Homo sapiens: one gene and its partner. The protein of the gene in region 2 interacts with the protein of the main gene of each other region in a pairwise test. Each region holds a gene or a part of one and is shown on either strand. Other genes may lie near its edges.

Region 1 (3,500 bases), on a different chromosome or scaffold from region 2:
TGTGTATATTACTCTCTGCCGTAGTCACCTGGATACCATCTCTGGACTTACTAGTGTAAGAATTGACAACTAAATTTTTGGGTTTTGTTACTTAACATTAAAAAATGACTTCTCTTCTAATACTGGAACAGTTTTATAATCATTCATTTCAAAGAGGTATGTCTTTTTCCTAGGAAGAATAGTGTTTCTTGGAATATCAAGTTGGACTAGACAGAGTGTTCAGGGTAATAATCAGGGGACTGATTTAACAAATTGGATATTACAACACCTGTTATATATTAGATAGTCATAAAATATGTGTTCTGTTAATTATGGGCTAGCAGTTTCTTTGGCTCTGCTTGGAAGAGCATTTCATCTAGACTTAGTGAATTGTGTTTCTAGTTCTATAGAACTAAGGAAAGGTTTGGGTGGAAGTGAAAATATAAGTTAAATGAAAATTTTATTTTATCCTCCTGTTTAGATTTGTACTTTTTTTCGTTCCAGGCTTGTCATATCTTATTTTAATCATTTTAATTATTTCTGGCCCTGATATGGTATCTGAATTCTTTTTTTTTTTTTTTTTTTTGAGACGGAGTCTTGCTGTGTTGCCTAGACCAGAGTGCAATGGCATGATCTCAGCTCACTGCAACCTCCGCCTCCTGGGTTCAACTTGAAGCAATTCTCCTGCCTCAGCCTCCTGTGTAGCTGGGATTACAAGTGTGCACCACCACACCTGGCTAATTTTTGTATTTTTAATAGAGACAGGGTTTCACCGTGTTGGCCAGCTGGTTTTGAACTCCTGAACTCAGGTGATCCACCTGCCTGGGCCTCCCAAAGTGCTGGGATTACAGGTGTGAGCCACCGCACCAGGCCTGAATTCTTATATATTTATAATTCTATATTTGCTTGTTTTTTTTTTTGTTTTTGTTTTGTTTTGTTTTGTTTTGAGACAGAGTTTCTCTCTTGTTGCCCAGGCTGGAGTGCAATGGTGCAATCTCGGCTCAACGCAACCTCCGCCTCCCGGGTTCAAGTGATTCTCCTGCCTCAGCCTCCTGAGTAGCTTGGATTGCAGGCATGAGCCGCCACGCCTGGCTAATTTTGTATTTTTAGTAGAGATGGGGTTTCTACATGTTGGTGAGGCTGGTCTTGAACTCCCGACCTCAGGTTATCTACCTGCCTAAGCCTCCCAAAGTGCTGGGATTACAGATGTGAACCACTGCACCAGGCCTGAATTCTTATATGTCTATAATTCTTTTTTTTTTTTTGGATACAGAGTTTTGCTCTTGTTGCCTAGGTTGGAGTGCAATGGTGTGATCAGGGCTCACCGCAGCCCCTACCTCCTGGTTTCAAGCGTTTCTCCTGCGTAGCTGGGATTACAGGCATGTGCCACCACGCCGGGCTGATTTTGTATTTTTAGTATAGACGGGGTTTCTCCATGTTGGTCAGCCTGGTCTTGAACTCCTGACCTCAGGTGATCTGCCTGCCTTGGCCTCCCAAAGTGCTGGGATTATGGTCGTGAGCCACCGCGCCCAGCCTGCTTGTTTTTTTACCTAAAGAAAAATTTGCACTTGTTTTAATTAGTTATAGGAAAATCATGATTATAAAATTTAACAAGTTTTAGCTTTATAACTTTACTATGAATATTGTCTCACTTTATTTTGATTTTTGTCTGTCTTATTATTGTATAGTCCTGTTTCTTAGCCAAATAAGTGTTAACTCCTGCCTAGGAAGTCATTCCATCCTATGTCTCTGTACGGTTTTACATTGCTTATGGAAGAGAAGCTTCTGTTCCAGTTAGTCTCTCTTCCATGACACAGACTCCTGACTTCTGTTATTTCATGTTTTCTTTATTTGTATATCACATTTTCCTTTTTCAAGGACCTTACTCTTCTGTTTTCATTCAGTCTTCCTCCTGGACTTACCTGTTCATTTGTCTTTCCTTTTCCTAACTCCTTTTGCTTTTTTTAAAAAAAGAGCACAGTATCTGTAATAGCATCCTATATAAAAGTCTGATTATACTGTCCTTTTAGGGGGTATGTTTCCAAATTACAGTAAACTCGTGAATTTGGTGAGATCATGATATGTGAGTATGGTTCTAGAGATATATGAGGGCCTCACATGGAAAGGGAACTAGTGAGTACTAAGAGAAGATTGGAAGGGTAACGACTTAATTTTGCAGATTTTCTGCCAAAAAAAGCCATTTTTCTCATTGTAGCATGACATGAGTTGGAGTCATACAGATTCAGGCTTAAATCTGCCCTGCTCATGAAGGGAGTTTTGGGGTGATAGAGTGTTATATAAAACTGGATTGTGGTGATTGTTGCAGAAGTATATACATTTAATACATTTATCAAATCTTTCACTTAAAATAAGTAAATTTTACTACACGTACATTATGCTTTAATATAACTATTAAAAACAATTTTGCTCCAGTATTTACCAGTTTGCGATATCAGGCAAGTCATGTAACATCTGAGCTGTAGTTCAGTCAGTTAACAAATGAGTATGGTAATGCCTGGTTTCCTGAGATTGTTGAGGTGAGGACTAAAAATAATACAGGGTATGCAGCTGGCCAATAGTAGGTGCTCAGTTAATAGCAGCTGCAATTCTTAAACTGTCTGTTTATATGGACCAAACATAATGAATTTGCTGCCACCACCTGGTATGGTAAACTTAGTGTGTGCTTATCTGGTAATGACTAGAAGAATTTCTATGTTTCTCTTCACCGACTTCCCTCTTCTGGCTTTTTCATTAGTCTGCAGTGCTTTATCCTCCATCGAGATAAAAATGCTTTATCCTCCAGAATCTCTGCATCTTTTTCTAACGATTTCTTCTTTTCCCTATACTTTTAGAAAGAAATCCACTGTCTGATCTGCACTGTCAACACTATAACAAATCTCTTCTGAGGTCGCTAGTGACCTAATTGCCAAATCTTTTAACTGCTTCTTTTTGTCTTAATTCTGTAACATTTAAAATTTTTGCTTCTGGGGCTTAATGTGGTCTCATAGTTATGACCACCTCCTTCACTTCCCCTCGCTAGACTTTCCTTTTTTTGAGCCAGAGTTTTGCTCTTCTTGCTCAAGCTGGAGCGCAATGGTGTGATCTCGGTCCACTGCAACCTCCGCCTCCCGGGTTCAAGCGATTCTCCTGCCTCAACCTCCCGAGTAGCTGGGACTACAGGTGCACTGGGATTACAGGTGCGCGCCACTGTCCCTGGCTAATTTTTTTGTATTTTTAGTAGAAATGGGGTTTAACCATGTTAGCTAGGCTGGTCTCGAACTCCTGACCTCAGGTGATCTGCCCACCTTGGCCTCCCAAAGTGCTGGGATTACAGGCGTGAGCCACCGCACCAGACCTCCCCTCACTAGACTAATGTTGAGACCTTTAAGTGTCCTTTACTGTCATCTTTAGCTCTTACTATGCTTTTAACTTTCACCTTAGTCTGTTAGAAAACGGAATTATTTACAAGGCAGTTTCTTCCTATTCTTGACTCCATTGTAGCCAGATTAATTTTTCCTAAA
Region 2 (3,500 bases):
ACTCAGATTTTCTATTTCCTTTGAGTCAGTTTTTATAGTTTATATTCTAGGAATTTGTCATCTATTTCATCAATTTGGTAGCATACAATTATAGTATTCTCTTATAATTGTGTACTTTTTGTAAGGTTGATATTAATGTTCCCATTTTTATACATGATTTTAAAATTTGAGTCTTCTCTCTTTATTCTTAGTCTAGCCAATTTTGTGTGTGTGTGTGTGTGTGTGTGTGTGCAGGGTCTCTGTCACCCAGGCTTGAGTGCAGTGGTGTGATCATAGCTTATAGCTATGTAAATGGAAGTGCAGCCTTAAACTCCTGGGCTCAAGTGACTTTCCCTCTTGTCAGCCTCCTGAGTAGCTGGGTGCACAGGCATGCTGGCGCATGCCTGGTTAATTTCTTAAATAATTTTTGTAGAGACAGGGTCTTGCTATGTTTTCCAGGCTGGTCTCAAACTCCTGGCTTCAAGCAGTCCTCCCACTTTGGCTTCCCAAAGTGCTGGGATTATAGGTGTCAACCATTGTGCTCGGCCTCATCATTTTAAAGAATAAACTTTTGGTTTTGTTGATCATCTATTATTTTTCTAGTCTATATTTCATTTGTATTAGCTGTATTTTTTCCCCCTTGTTTCTGCTTAGTTTGTATTGAGTTTTCTTTTTATAGTTTCTTGAGGTAGAAGTTTAGGTTGCCAATTCAAGATCTTTCTTCTTTTTAAATGTAGTTACTTGTTTCTGTATCCCATAGATTTTGCTATATGTGTTTGTTTTCATTAATTTCAAATTATTTTCTAGTTTTCTTTATGAGTTCTTCTTACTTGTTGATTGTTAAATTTTCATGTATTTGTGAAATTTCCAGATTTCCTCCTGTTAGTGATTTCCCCTCCTCTTTCCTCACCTCCCTTCTCCTCTTCTCTTTTCTTTCATTTTTTGAAACAGAGTCTCACTGTATCACCCAGGCTGGAGTGCAGTGGTGTGATCATGGCTCACTGCAACTTCTGCCTTCTGGGCTCAAGCAATCCTCCCACCTCAGCCTCTCTAGTACCTTGGATTAAAGGTGCACATGCCACCACGCCCGGCTAATTTTTGTATTTTTTGGTAGAGATGGGAGTTTTGCCATGTTGCCCAGGCTGGTCTTAAACCCCTGGGCTCAAGTGATCTGCCTCCCTCGGCCTCCCAAAATGCTGGAATTATAGGCCTGAGCTGCTGTTCCTGGCCTCTGTTACTGATGTCTAATTTCCTTTCATTGTCATTGGAAAAGATACTTTGTATGAGCTTAATATTTTCAAATTTGTTGAGACTTGACTTGTAGTGTAGTATTTTAGACTTTGGTCTTTGAGAATGTTTTTATGCACTTCAGAAGAATGTGTATTCTATTTTGTGTAGTGTTCTAGAGATATCTGATAGGCCATGTTTAAGTCTTGTTCAAGTGTTCAGTTTACTTGTTCATCTCTTGTCTGGTTGTTCTATCCATTATTGAAAGTTGTACGTTGTAGTCTCCAAGCATTAATGCGGAACTCTTTTTGGTTTTTTTCCTTTCAATTCTGTCAGTTTTTGCTATATGTATTGTTCCATGCTTTTACTCTCAATCTGTGTATATTTTTGGATCTAAATTGAGTCTCTTGTAAACAGTATATAATTGGATTGTGTTTTTACATTTTATCCTGTTATTCATTGTGTCTTTCTTTTTGAGACAGGGTCTCAGTCTGTTGTCCAGGCTGGAATGCAGTGGCACGATCACAACTCACTGCAGCCTCGACCTCCTGGGCTCAAGCTATTCTCCAACCTCAGCCTCCCATGTAGCTGAGACCATAGGTGCATACCACTATGGCTGGCTAATTTTGTCATTTTTTTTGTGGAGACAGGGTCTTGCCATGTTGCCCAGGCTGGTCTTGAACTCCTGGGCTCAAGTGATCCACTCAACACAGCCTCCCAAAAGTGCTGGGATTGCAGGTGTGAACCACTGTGCCTGGCCCTGGCCTTATGTGTCTTAACTGGAAAGTTTAGCCCATTTACATTTAGTGTAATTAGTGATAAGGAAATACATTTACTATTTTATTATTTGTTTTCTCTATGTCTTATATATTTTTTGTTTGTCAATTCCTCTGATGCTGTTCTTTGTGTCAGATATTTTCTAGTGTACCATTTTGATCCCCTTCTCATATATACATATAATTCTCACATTATATAAATAAATATAACATATCTAAATATATTAATATATTTAGATATATATTTATATTAATATATATTTAGATATATTATATTTAGATATATATTAATAAAAATTTAATATATTTAGATATATATTATATTTATATTAATATATTTAGATATATATTATATTTATATTAATATATTTAGATATATATTATATTTATATTAATATAATATATTTAGATATGTTATATTTATGTAATGTGAGAATATGTATATATGAGAATTATATATATAAATAAAATATAGTAAATAATTATGTGTGTATTTCTTAGTATTTACCCTGGGGGTTATAATTAACACTATATATTATAACAATTTAGTTTGAATTAATACCAGTTTAGTTTCAGTGGTATATAAAAACTTTGCTCCTGTATTTGTTGTTATTGTCACAAGTTACAGCTTTATGAATTTTGTGCCAATCAATATAGATTCATAATTACTGTTTTATGTAGTCTTTTAAATCATATAGCAAAGAGGAGGCATTGCAAACCAAAGACACAGTAATATGCACTTTTATATTTACCTATGTAAATACCAACAATTACTGGTATCCTTTAGTTCATATGTGATTTTAAGCCACTGTCTGATCCCCTTACATTTCAGCCTGATGGACTCTTTATAGTATTTCTTTTAGGGGAAGTTTACCAGTGACAAACTTCCTCAGTTTTTGTTTATCTGGAAATATCTTAATTTTGCCTTTATTTTTAAAGGGTTGTTTTACCAGATAGAGGATTCTTGGTTGACAGTTTCCTTTCAGCATTTTGAATATGTTATCCCACTGCCTTCTGGTCTCCATGGTTTCCAGTGAAAAATCAGTTGTTGATTGTATTGAGTGTCCTTTTCACGAGTTGCATTTTTCTTGCTGCTTTCAGGGTTCTCTCGGTTTTTGTCTTTCAACAATTTGATTATGATGCATCTTGATATGAATCCTTTTGCATTTATCCTGCTTGGAATTCATTGAGTTTATGAGCTAGATTCATGCCTTTCATCAGATTTGGAAAGTTTTAGCCATTATTTCTTCAAATATTTAGGCCTCTTTCACTCTCTTTTCCTTCTGTGCCTCCAATTATATGTATATTAGTATGTTTGGTGGGGTTCCACATGTATGTTCATTTTCCTTCAGTCCACAGACTCAGTAATTTTAATTTACCTATCTTTAGGTTTGCTGATTCTTTCTTCTTGTAGAGGTTCAAGGGATTTTGATGTTTCTCAAGAAAGAGATATGATTATAAGAAGTGGTAACACACAACAAGCTTCATTTGGTGGCACTTGGACAGGATTATATGAGA

The links. Proteins that work in one complex are often made in the same cells at the same time.
Region 1: the proteins of FBXL17 (region 2) and ZMYM2 interact in a two-hybrid assay, tested with the Homo sapiens proteins (one large-scale study listed by BioGRID).

Annotation. Positions count from the first base shown.
Region 1 is NC_000013.11:19,965,227-19,968,726, forward strand, and holds part of ZMYM2 (zinc finger MYM-type protein 2), read left to right. Parts: coding exon of another isoform or gene 1-55; intron 56-3,062; exon of another isoform or gene 3,063-3,176; intron 3,177-3,500. UniProt on the Homo sapiens protein: Involved in the negative regulation of transcription.
Region 2 is NC_000005.10:108,372,099-108,375,598, reverse strand, and holds part of FBXL17 (F-box/LRR-repeat protein 17), read left to right. Parts: intron 1-3,500. UniProt on the Homo sapiens protein: Substrate-recognition component of the SCF(FBXL17) E3 ubiquitin ligase complex, a key component of a quality control pathway required to ensure functional dimerization of BTB domain-containing proteins (dimerization quality control, DQC).